2 separate regions of the Homo sapiens genome follow, and region 2 is linked to region 1. A link means that fine-mapping ties the variant in region 1 to the expression of a gene that starts in the linked region. Tissue or cell type: whole blood. Region 1 holds a variant in brackets; the other region holds the start of a gene. All regions are shown on one strand. Distances are between the middles of the regions.

Region 1 (5,356 bases):
CTAATGAAAACTTTAGTAATTGTCTTGTCTTAGCTAACTTTACTGGGTTGACTCCTGCTAACTCATTTTACTGATTTACCTGTAAGTCTGGTTACCAGATGGACAAATTCCCAATCCTACTCCCTTCTGTTTATTTGCCAAGGAATCTACCCAACAGACAACAGTACCCTCTCTCTACCTATATATTAATACATTTTTTGTTGAAAAAGGTATTTTATTTTAATCCTTAAGCTTCCATCTTTAGTCCCCAATGTATTAAAATAGTGATTGCATTACTAAAGAGACTGTTTTACAAGATGCACATTCACCTAAGAGCCACGAGCTTTCCAAAGCCAACCTTCTCTCAAAGGAGAAAATACTATTATTTCTCCTAGTACTTATTTTGAAGAGCAACATCCGTTCAGCGACTATTTAGAAAGCCAGTATCAAAGTTTAGATTATTATTTTTAATATTTAATCAAGTTGCTACAACAGTAGTTAACAATCAATGAAAAATAAAGAGGTGATTAAAATGTATTAACTATGTAATTAAACACATGCACATACACATACAAACTAGGATCTCATTATGTCAGTAAAGAACTAGAAAAGGATAAAGGAGAAGAGAGGCAAATAAACCACACAAACAGAGGGACAGATGGGCCACTGAGGGTAGGGCCACTGCTGCGTTTTCCTCCCATTCCTAGCCTTGGGTTTGGCATATTGTAGATGCTCAGGAAAGATTTTTCAGAATGAGTTAAGGAAGATAATCTCACAGATTGTATGTGAGGAGGTAAAGGACCAATTTTTCTTTATCTTTCTTCTTCTCTGTCCCCTTTTCAACATCCTTCTGACTCCCTCTTACCACTAAGCACAGCTTGTTCAAATAGAGTTGTTCTGACAATACCCCAGATTCCTGGCCAAAATCAATCTCCATGTTTGTCATTTTAAAGATGCCAAGAGGAGGACATCCTAACACAGTGCCTTCTTTCCTCTTACCCTGACCTCTTCTGCAGTGTACCATTTAACTGAATTGAGGGGTATTAATCTACTTTGCAAAGTGGAATATGGCCTGTATTCTTATAATCTTAGCATCAATATTCAATCTTTGTAAATGGATTTAGTTATGTTGATATCTCAAATATTTAAGTGCATTACAAGGTCTTCTTCCATACTGGAAAAGTTTTTAAATTTCCACCCCACTGTCAGAGTAAAAACAATAATAACAAAAATATGGGAACAATAGAACCTATCTGTACTGTTCAATAAACTATCCGTCTCTTTGAAGATTCTTGACAGCCAAGGAAAATCTTGAAAAATTATTATTCTTGCAAGGGTGCCTAGATGTCTGAAGGAAAAGCGAAAACATGTCAATAATAGCAAGATTTGCAGGAAGGTTTATAAAAGAAAATTGGTCATTTTTTAAAGCACAGCCTATAAGTACAGCTGTTAGTGAGGGGTGATAACTAAGGAGAGGATGGGGAAACATACTAGAAATATTTAAACAGAGTGTACATAGTTATCTTTGTTTTAATACACAGTCTACTTTAAAAGTCAAATTGTAAAACCTAAAATAGCAGTGTTTAAATGTGTGAATGTCAAGTGAAATGCGCGCTGAAGCAGGAAACGGAAGATTGGGTTCCAAATTCCACCCCGATGTGTAACCCAGGGCGAGTCTCAATCTTCCAGAATCTTTAAGATGGAAATAGCAATATCTCAAACCTCCTATTACAGAATCATTCTGAAAAGTAAGTTTACATACTTGAAACTACTTCGTAAGCTCCTTGAGGGTGGGGTTCTTATCTTTTCCCCTTTATAACCAGTTACTTAAGGTATAAAAAAATAGAAAATATTTAATTCCTCGAAAAAAATTGAAATGTCATTAGGGATTATCTCAAGAAGCTCATTAGTAACTCTATAGAAGGTCCAACCTACAAAATAAATGAAGCTTTAGTAGCGTCAGCAAATCACCGATACTTTCAGTAATTAAAACTTTAGTTTAATTTTAGGCCAGGTGCAGGGGTTTACACCTGTAATCCCAGCATTTTGAGAGGCCGAGGTGGGTAGATCACTTGAGCCCGGGAGTTTGAGACCAGCCTGGACAACA[T/C]GGTGAAACTCTATCTCTACATAAAATACAAAAATCAGCCAGGCCTGGTGTTATGTGTCTGTGGTCCCAGCTACTCCAGGGGCTGAGGTGGGAGGATTGCTTGAGCCCAGAAGGTAGAAGTTGCAGTGAGCTGAGATTGTGTCACTGCACTTCAGTCTGGGCAACAGAGACAGACTTTACATCAAAGAAATTTATTTAAAAAACCAACATTTATTTATCTGGTACCAGCCTTAAGAGAACAAAATATATAGAAAATAAAGCATCTTTTGAATATGTGAATATCCTCATAAAAAAAGATAATTTTACAAGTATGAAATTAGGTAAACAATGGCAGCATCTTTTTTTAAATACACAGTGGTAGACCGTGTTGTTAAATATACATAGGTATCAAGTTGCAATTCTTTCAGAAAGCATTCTGATTACTATATCAACAACCTACCGTGTCTACTACACCTCTGGCCAGAGACTTCCCCCATAGGCTCAGATCCACATACTGGACATTCCCTTCAGACCTGTTGCTTCTTCTGAACTCTCATGTATGGTGCCATAATTTGGCTGATTTCCTAAATCAGAATGCCAAGCATCAATTTAGAATCTTTTCCTCACCCACTCCATCCACTCAGACACTAAGTCTATAGAATTTTATACTTCCTTAACATCTCTCCTAAATGTATTCACTCCTTTTTTCCTCATTGCCAATGCCACTGTGCAGTCTCTCTTCACATCTTCATCACTGAAACGGCATTCTAACTGGTGAGATGGTAGGAATGGAAAACACAAATTCAAGAGATATTAACAAGAGAGAACCAACTGACAGAACCCAGGAGCAGAGTTCGGTTCCGGAGAAGGATAATGGATTTAGTTGTGAGTATGTTTAGTTTGAGGTACTTTGGGGTCATCTACATGAAGATATTCCAAGTATGTGCATACATGGGTATGGGCAAAGAAACCAGATTCATAGTGGACCCTGTGTATATGGATGCAATATCCCCTTTCATGTCTTACTGCCTTAAAAGCCTTTCTAGACCGTCTCATCCCACAGCAGTCAAGCCTCCCTTTCCCTTCTGATAACACTGCTTGTATCCTCTGGGTCCAAAATCATATGCCTTTTGTTGACATTTAATATTTCAATCTTCTTGTTCACAAATAATGCTTCTAAAGAATAGGAACCTTTTTATGCTTTATGTCCATAAATTCTCATGGTATCTAGCATAATCCAGCACACAGGAGGTGCTCAAAACCAAGGAGGAGTTGAAGGGATGAATTTCAGTAGCTTTAGTAATAATAATTATAAACATCTAGCACAGTGCCTGGCACATAGTGAATGCTGTATCTTTTATCTTTTAAATAGATTAAGACTTAATGTCCAAAATTATTGTTCACAAGGTTCTTGACATCTTAATACTCACCAAATCTGACATGCAACTGAAACTTGGACACAAATGCTGCTATTACATATTTTGTAAGAAGTACAACCACTCATAGTTTTATATATAACCTGTTTTCGTGAAAAGGTCATATATTAACAAACTTAATCCATCTTCATCATTGCCCATGATGATTGGTACACATCCACACTCTACTTTTAGTTTCATATTCTATTTTGATTCGTAGTTTTACTTCCTCGGTGTTTCCCTACAATGTTTGTTCTCCCTTTTATGCCTCCCAAATGCAATGCTCCTATGCCTCCTTTTTTCCACCCCTTGGCTAAGTCAGGTCAAAGACTTACTTAACAATGATTGGAACAATAATTATTTTCAGGAAATAAAGAGAAGGGAGGAGATGCCTGGCTCTTGGTAAAAAGCAAAGAGCCAATTATTTCGCTTAGGCGAAATAATTTAATGTTTTGATTTTGGCTCACAGCATTAAGACAAAAATGATTTTACGGCCTCCAAGTCGTGGAAAAGTTCAGCATCTGACACACTGACCCTTGACAAGTGAGGCCACATTTATAAATCAGTGCTGTTTTACATAAGCACATACAGATAGAAGTAGAAATCCTAACTAGGGAATACCGTGAAAGCTATCACTTGTATTAACCCTGGACATGTGACAGCATCTAACATAATACCCATTGGAGTGTATGCTGGTTCAACCTCTTTGGAAAACTGATTGAAGGTCTTTACTAAAGCTGAATATAAACCTAGACTATGACAGATTAACCCCACTCCTGTGTATATACCCAAGATAAGTTCATTCTTAAGTACAAGGCATGCATAAGAATGATCACAGAACTTTATTCATTATCTTCAAAACAGGAAATAATCCATTTTTATAAACAAAATAGAATGGATCAACAAATTATGGTATATTTACACAGTAGTGAGGTAGGAGGCAGAACTCGACTTTGGAGGTGGGGCTTGGACATCACACCAAATTGAGGACTAGCTAAAAGAGGTCTGAGGCAGAAGCACCTCCCCCATTAGACACCAGTGTGCCATGTTAGTTTACTGTTGCCATGGTAACATCAGGAAGTTACTGCCCCTTTCCATGGCATCAACCCGACAACCTGCAAGTTACCAACCTCATTCTAGAAATTTCTGCATAAACCAGTCCTTAATTTGCATCTAATTAAAAGTGGATATAAATTTGAGTGCAGAACTGCCTCTGAGCTCCTATTCCAGGTACACTGCCTATGGGGTATCCCTGCTCCACAAGGATCAGAACCTCTGCTGCTGCAGTTCACTGCCACTTCAATAAAAGTTGCTGTTTAACATCACAACCCTCTCAAGGGCAAGCCTCAATTTGGGGGCTTGACTGTCCTGTATCATCAGGATACTAAGAAGCAATAAAAAAAGAAATGGAACTACCACCACGCATAATGCTATTAATGAACCTCACAACTATAAAAGTGAGCAAAAGCAGCCAGACACAAAGAAAAACATACTGTATGACTCCATTTAAATGATGTTCAAGAAGAGACAAACTAATATATGATAAGCCAGTAGAGTGGTTATCTTGGGTGGGAGCAATGACTGGGAAGGTCTCAAGGGAGACCTCAGGTTCCTGGAAGTAGATCCTGATCAGACTGAGAATATGGTGGGAGAAGAGATAAATCAATGAGATACATATTTAAAGGAGATATTTAACTCTCAAACTGACAAAGAGAATACAGATGATTGGGAGAAGAATGACAAATTCAGTTATGGACATGTTGGTTATAAGCATACATAAAAAACCTGATCTGTACACTTAATATTTGTGAGGTTTACTCTATATGTTATACCTTAAATAAAAATTAACAATATAAAGAAAATGGGACAGGATTAA
Region 2 (5,000 bases), 55 kb after region 1:
CATGACCACGGAAATAGCTTTTTAAAACTAAGATGTGAAAATATCTTAGAAACAAACTCTAAATAAGGAGAAAAAAGTTGTATATAATTTTCTACTTATGAGGTGAATAATTTCATTTTTTCTTCAAAGGTGTCAGGAAAATGGACGTTTTGGTAGAGTGATAAAAGGGCCAGACCTTCTAATTGCTTAATCTTAATGTTTCTGAATCTGAATCCTCATCTATAGTGTGAGGAGAATAATTTCCCTCCTAATTAGTGAGGATACATTGAGATGACGCATGTGAACATGGTTTGACAATTATAATGTCATATGGATGGAAGATACAACTTTTATTAATCACTGTTGATATGTGGACAGATTTGATACTCATTATACTGTTTTTAAGTGTCTATAACTTTAAATATTTTATGCCAATCTTAATATTAATAATTTTCTCCATTTTCAACATTGTATGATCAGCAAAGTAAATTTTCAGTCAATTCTATTTGGTTTTTATTTGAAAAAGTAAAATAATGATCATGCAACATAGAAAATTATAGTTCAGTTGCCAATTCCATTAACTTAGTTTGTCTCAGAAAAGGAAAAATTACCATAGACACAGAATTAACTATTAGAATTAATATTTAATCTAAAAATGTCTAGTGTTTCTACAGAAAATTTGAGTACCTTCTCAACTTCCTTAAACCAGTGCCTTTTTCAAATTTCTTTTCAAAGTTACACCTCTCAATTTTCATAAAAAATAGTTTGAAGATTATTCTGAATAATTATAACCAATGAAACACAAAGACAAGAAAAGAACTATTGCAGTGGGCCCTTGCTGAACCTGAGCTAGCACCTATAATGAGTGAGTCTTCACCAAAAGAATAAGGAGGGAGGAAGGACTAGAAGGACAGAAAAGAGGCAATGATAACTTAAGAGAACACTGAATTTTTAAAAATTTTAAAAAGGTAGTGGCTAGCAGAGAACCTGAGACTTGTACCCATGAGAACTTTAGCCCAGTCTATCTATCACGATAGCCCCAAGAATTCTGGTCATTGTACTTGGGTAAGGGCTTCTATTTTTTAAGGCACTTGCATTTTATGAAATGTTAGTGTTTGCAGGTGTCTTGGCTAAATAATTTAGGGAATACATTTTAGGAGGAAGTAGGGGCACAGAGGGGGAGAGAGAAACCAGGCAGGAAAGAAGAAAAAAAGAAAAAAGAAGAAAATAAATCTTTCTGTTCCCATTATTTTACTGCCTATAGAATTATAAAAGGTAAACACACACACACACACACACACACACACACACACACCCCTTATAGGGTCATTTAGAACCATCTTTCTTCATTTTAAAACTAAAGAAACAGGTCTAGGTGACACAGATGAAGCAGTGGCAGAGCCAGGAAAATAACCTGACCCTTGTCCCTGCTCTTTCCACCGCACCATGGTGACTCTCTTTTTTGTGTCTTTTTTTTTTTTTTCACTCTAAAACTGAGGATCATTTGTAGTCAAAGAGATCAATGCTATTCTCAAAACAAGTTCTGATCTCTCATAATTTTCTTGGTAACTCAGAATCAATGTTAAGTACGTTGAAATAAAAATACAGTTCTTTACACGGTAATTTTGTAGACTGTGCACCACGGTCCCATCCATTTTCTTACTTGATCCTTACAAAAACCCTTTGAGGCAAGGCAAGGAAGGTATTATTATCTACATTTTTAAAGTGAGCAAATTAAAACCCAAAGTAAGGTCACTTAGGGTCAGGACGGAGCAAGTACTCTATTCCTATATTTGGAATATAGGAGGGAATACACTTCCAAAGAGGCAATTCCCTCAAAAAGCACCAATCTTGCTCTTTACTTTCTTACCAAGGCATTCTCCATGCCCTGGAGATGCCCTCACTAAGTTAGTGAAGCTTGGATGTTGACATCCACAGAGGTTACTCCTAGTTTGCACCTAGTTGTCATCTTAAAAAGCGCAGTTTCTTACCCCTTCCCTTGGTCCTGATCCTTATTTAGGCTCCTATTTTTCTCTTTGGGATTTGGCGTCCTGGGTCTCACTCCAAAGCTCCACCCTCTCCAACCAAGAAGTCGCGTGCTTGGTATCCAAGGTGACCACGCAGCTTTACCCGCGTTGCCCCTTCCGTGCTTCCCATTGGCCAGTGGACTCCCATGTACCGCCCCTCCAATAGCCAATGGTCTTGAGACAAAGGGCGCCCGCCTTTCCAGCGATTCTAACACCTACCCTCTTACCCGTGCTCCCCTGCGCATTGCCTCCTGGGAAATGTGGTTTCTAAGAGGCAGAGCTCTGCGACTTAGAACTACCTATCCCGTCGGCCTTAGCGAAAGGGGGTGGACTTAGGCAAGGGGTCCAGGTCAGAGTTTAGAGCTTTCAAATCCCAACTTGCCCCTGGGGATTGCGCGGCTGATGTTTAGAACGCCTAGTCAAGCCAACCGGCTCGCTCTTGTTTCAGCAAACCCTGACTTACGTCTCCTATTTGACTTGAGGCGGCACAGTGGCCAAGTCGATTGGCCGTGGCAAGTGACCCTCCCTGTGGCTGAAGTGTTCTGAGGACTGGCGAGAGAGGCGCGCCATGCTTGCCCCCTGCTCAGGTTGGGAGCTTGGCTGCTTCCGTCTCTGTCTCCGTCAGGTCCGACTGTGGGCTGGCGCTGGGCGCTGGGCTTGCTGGGCTTGCCAAGCCAGGCCGTACAGCTCAGGTGGGAGCGAGCGCTGGCCCGGATCGGAGACTGAGGTCCCTCCGCCTGGCCCGGGGCGCCGAACTCTGAAGGAGTGGACACTGCAGGTGAGCCCGTTTGGTCGGCTGCGGGCGCGGCTCCCGTGCCACCTGGCCGTGAGGCCCCTGGACCCCCTCACCTACCCGGATGGCGACCGCGTGCTGGTCGCGGTGTGCGGCGTGGAGGGCGGCGTGCGGGGCCTGGACGGCCTGCAGGTGAAGTACGACGAGGATCTGGAGGAGATGGCCATTGTGTCTGATACTATCCACCCCCAGGCGTCCGTGGAGGTGAACGCGCCCCTGAAGTTTGGCAAGTGAAGTGAAGTGAAAACGGGTTTGGGTCCCAGGGAACGCACAGTGAACTTAATAAATGTGGTCGACGTGCACTTTTAATTGGTCCTGGCTCTCTAAACCTAATTTACAGTTGGCCCCTTCGGAAATGCACCTTTTCCTCTGTTCTGTTCTTGAGTGTCCGAGTAGTATTTAAAAATTAGGTTCCCAATTATAGAAATTTTATACATCGAATGGAAACATGATTTGGTATAATCCAGGTCAAATTCTATTTCTGGAGCCGCTTGTGTTCTCCTTTATCCCGTTGTCATTAGCAAACTGGCTTATTTTTCAAGGTTGAAGTTTCTTGACAATTCATTCAATGGTATGGCAGTCCATCTACATTTCATCTTGCTCACAGCCTGGGGGTCTGTCCCAAAACAGCCCTGTCAATAGGATGTTCCGGGTATCACCTGGTTTGAGTATTTGGTTTTAGACGGGCGCCCAGCTTCTTACTGTTATATTTCCATTCTTTTTGGCCTAAGTTTTCCATGAGTAGCAAGCTTTGAAGAAAAACACATGGTAAGCCTGCCTAGGAAGCTTCAATAATAATGCCTGCAAGATACCTTTCTTAGCTTTTCCTAAATGGCAAGCCACTGTGTACACACACTTTTCTAGGAAGGGCTCCCCAGACTGTCATTCTTCCTGGGACTGATGGAAGATATTGATGATGATGATGATAGTAATAATAATAGCATTTAGCATTTTTAAGATCATCTTTTATAATGCTTAGAGTTGCCCAAATAGTAGATGCCGTAGTCCTCCCTTATCCACCGTTTGGCTGTCTCAGTTTGTTACCTGCCTCAGCTGTTGTAGGAAAATATTAAGATATTTTGACAGATCACAGTAATATAACTTTTATTACAGTATATTGTTATAATTGCTGTATTTGTTATTATTGTTCATCTCTTACTATGCCTAGTTTATAAATTAAACTTGATCATTGATATGTATACAGGAAAAAACATAGAATATATAGGATTTGGTACTATTTGTGGTTTCAGGAATCAAGTGGGGGGGCGGGTCTTGCCTACTTTAAGAGAAATCATCAATATTTATGTTAATTCCAAATTAAATATCAGCGTTTTTAATTTTTAAAATTTGTATACAGAGATGCCTGCAGTTACATCTTAAATAGACAGCCAAGGATGGCATTTGTAATTCCTTATTTTCCAAACTTGCTTCATATACCACTGCCATTTGTCCACAATCTTGTGGGGTTTTTTGTTTGTTTGTTTTGGTTTTTTTTGAGACTGCATCTCACTCACTCTGCCACGCAGGCTGGAGTACAGGTGCACAATCATGGCCCACTGCAGTCTTGACTTCACGGTTTTAAGCAATCTTCTCGCCTCCACCTCCTGAGTAGCTGGGACTACAGGTGCATGCTACCATGCCCGGCTAATGTTTTTGTTTTTTTGTAGAAATGGAGTTTTGCTACATTGTCCAGGCTGGTCTTGAACTCCTGGGCTTCAAGCAATCCTCCTTCCTCGGCCTCCCAAAGTGCTGGTATTACAGGCATGAGCCACTGCTCATGGCCTAATCTTGTAGTTTTAATAGTATATATTAGCTTTTTCAAAGTTGTTCCCATTTTTAAAAAATTACTTCAAATACCTGTGATATAGTTGCATGGTAATATTTTCATTTTTTAAGTATGAAAGGTTAGACATAGGATTTGAAAACCTAAGTCATGATCATATATACTGGGGAAGAGGCTTCTACAGTCTTTCACAGGAGTACTTAACAGAATCGTAGTCTCCTTTACTTCCCATCTATGTTAGTTCTCTTTAGGTGATTTAGGCCAGTAGAAATAACTGCTCTGTTTCTAAAAACGGGCAGAAAGGCTATTGTTTTTGGTCCCGTTGCTGTGGTAGAAGACCCCTTACCTTTACAGTATGCACTTTCCAGGATTCAGCAATATTACGGACATAACTGAGGAGTTGGGTTTCTAGGTTAAA

Evidence for each region. PIP is the estimated chance that this variant, and not a neighbour inherited with it, causes the effect.
Region 2: FAM185A starts here. The variant in region 1 is the best candidate, but not a certain one, in a credible set for the expression of FAM185A in whole blood (TOPMed, PIP 0.56).

Annotation. Positions count from the first base shown.
Region 1 is chr7:102,691,693-102,697,048 of GRCh38, forward strand. It overlaps the pseudogene RASA4DP. Among named protein-coding and RNA genes, the nearest start is that of POLR2J2-UPK3BL1, 23 kb to the left of the region's middle. The variant T/C (reference allele first, on the strand shown) is at 2,087.
Region 2 is chr7:102,746,634-102,751,633 of GRCh38, forward strand. FAM185A (family with sequence similarity 185 member A) reads left to right here and starts at 2,366. Exons shown (of 8, transcript NM_001145268.2): 1 at 2,366-3,025. The coding sequence starts at 2,575. It also overlaps the pseudogene RASA4DP. RefSeq lists silencers at 2,056-2,145, 2,186-2,355 and an enhancer at 2,089-2,383.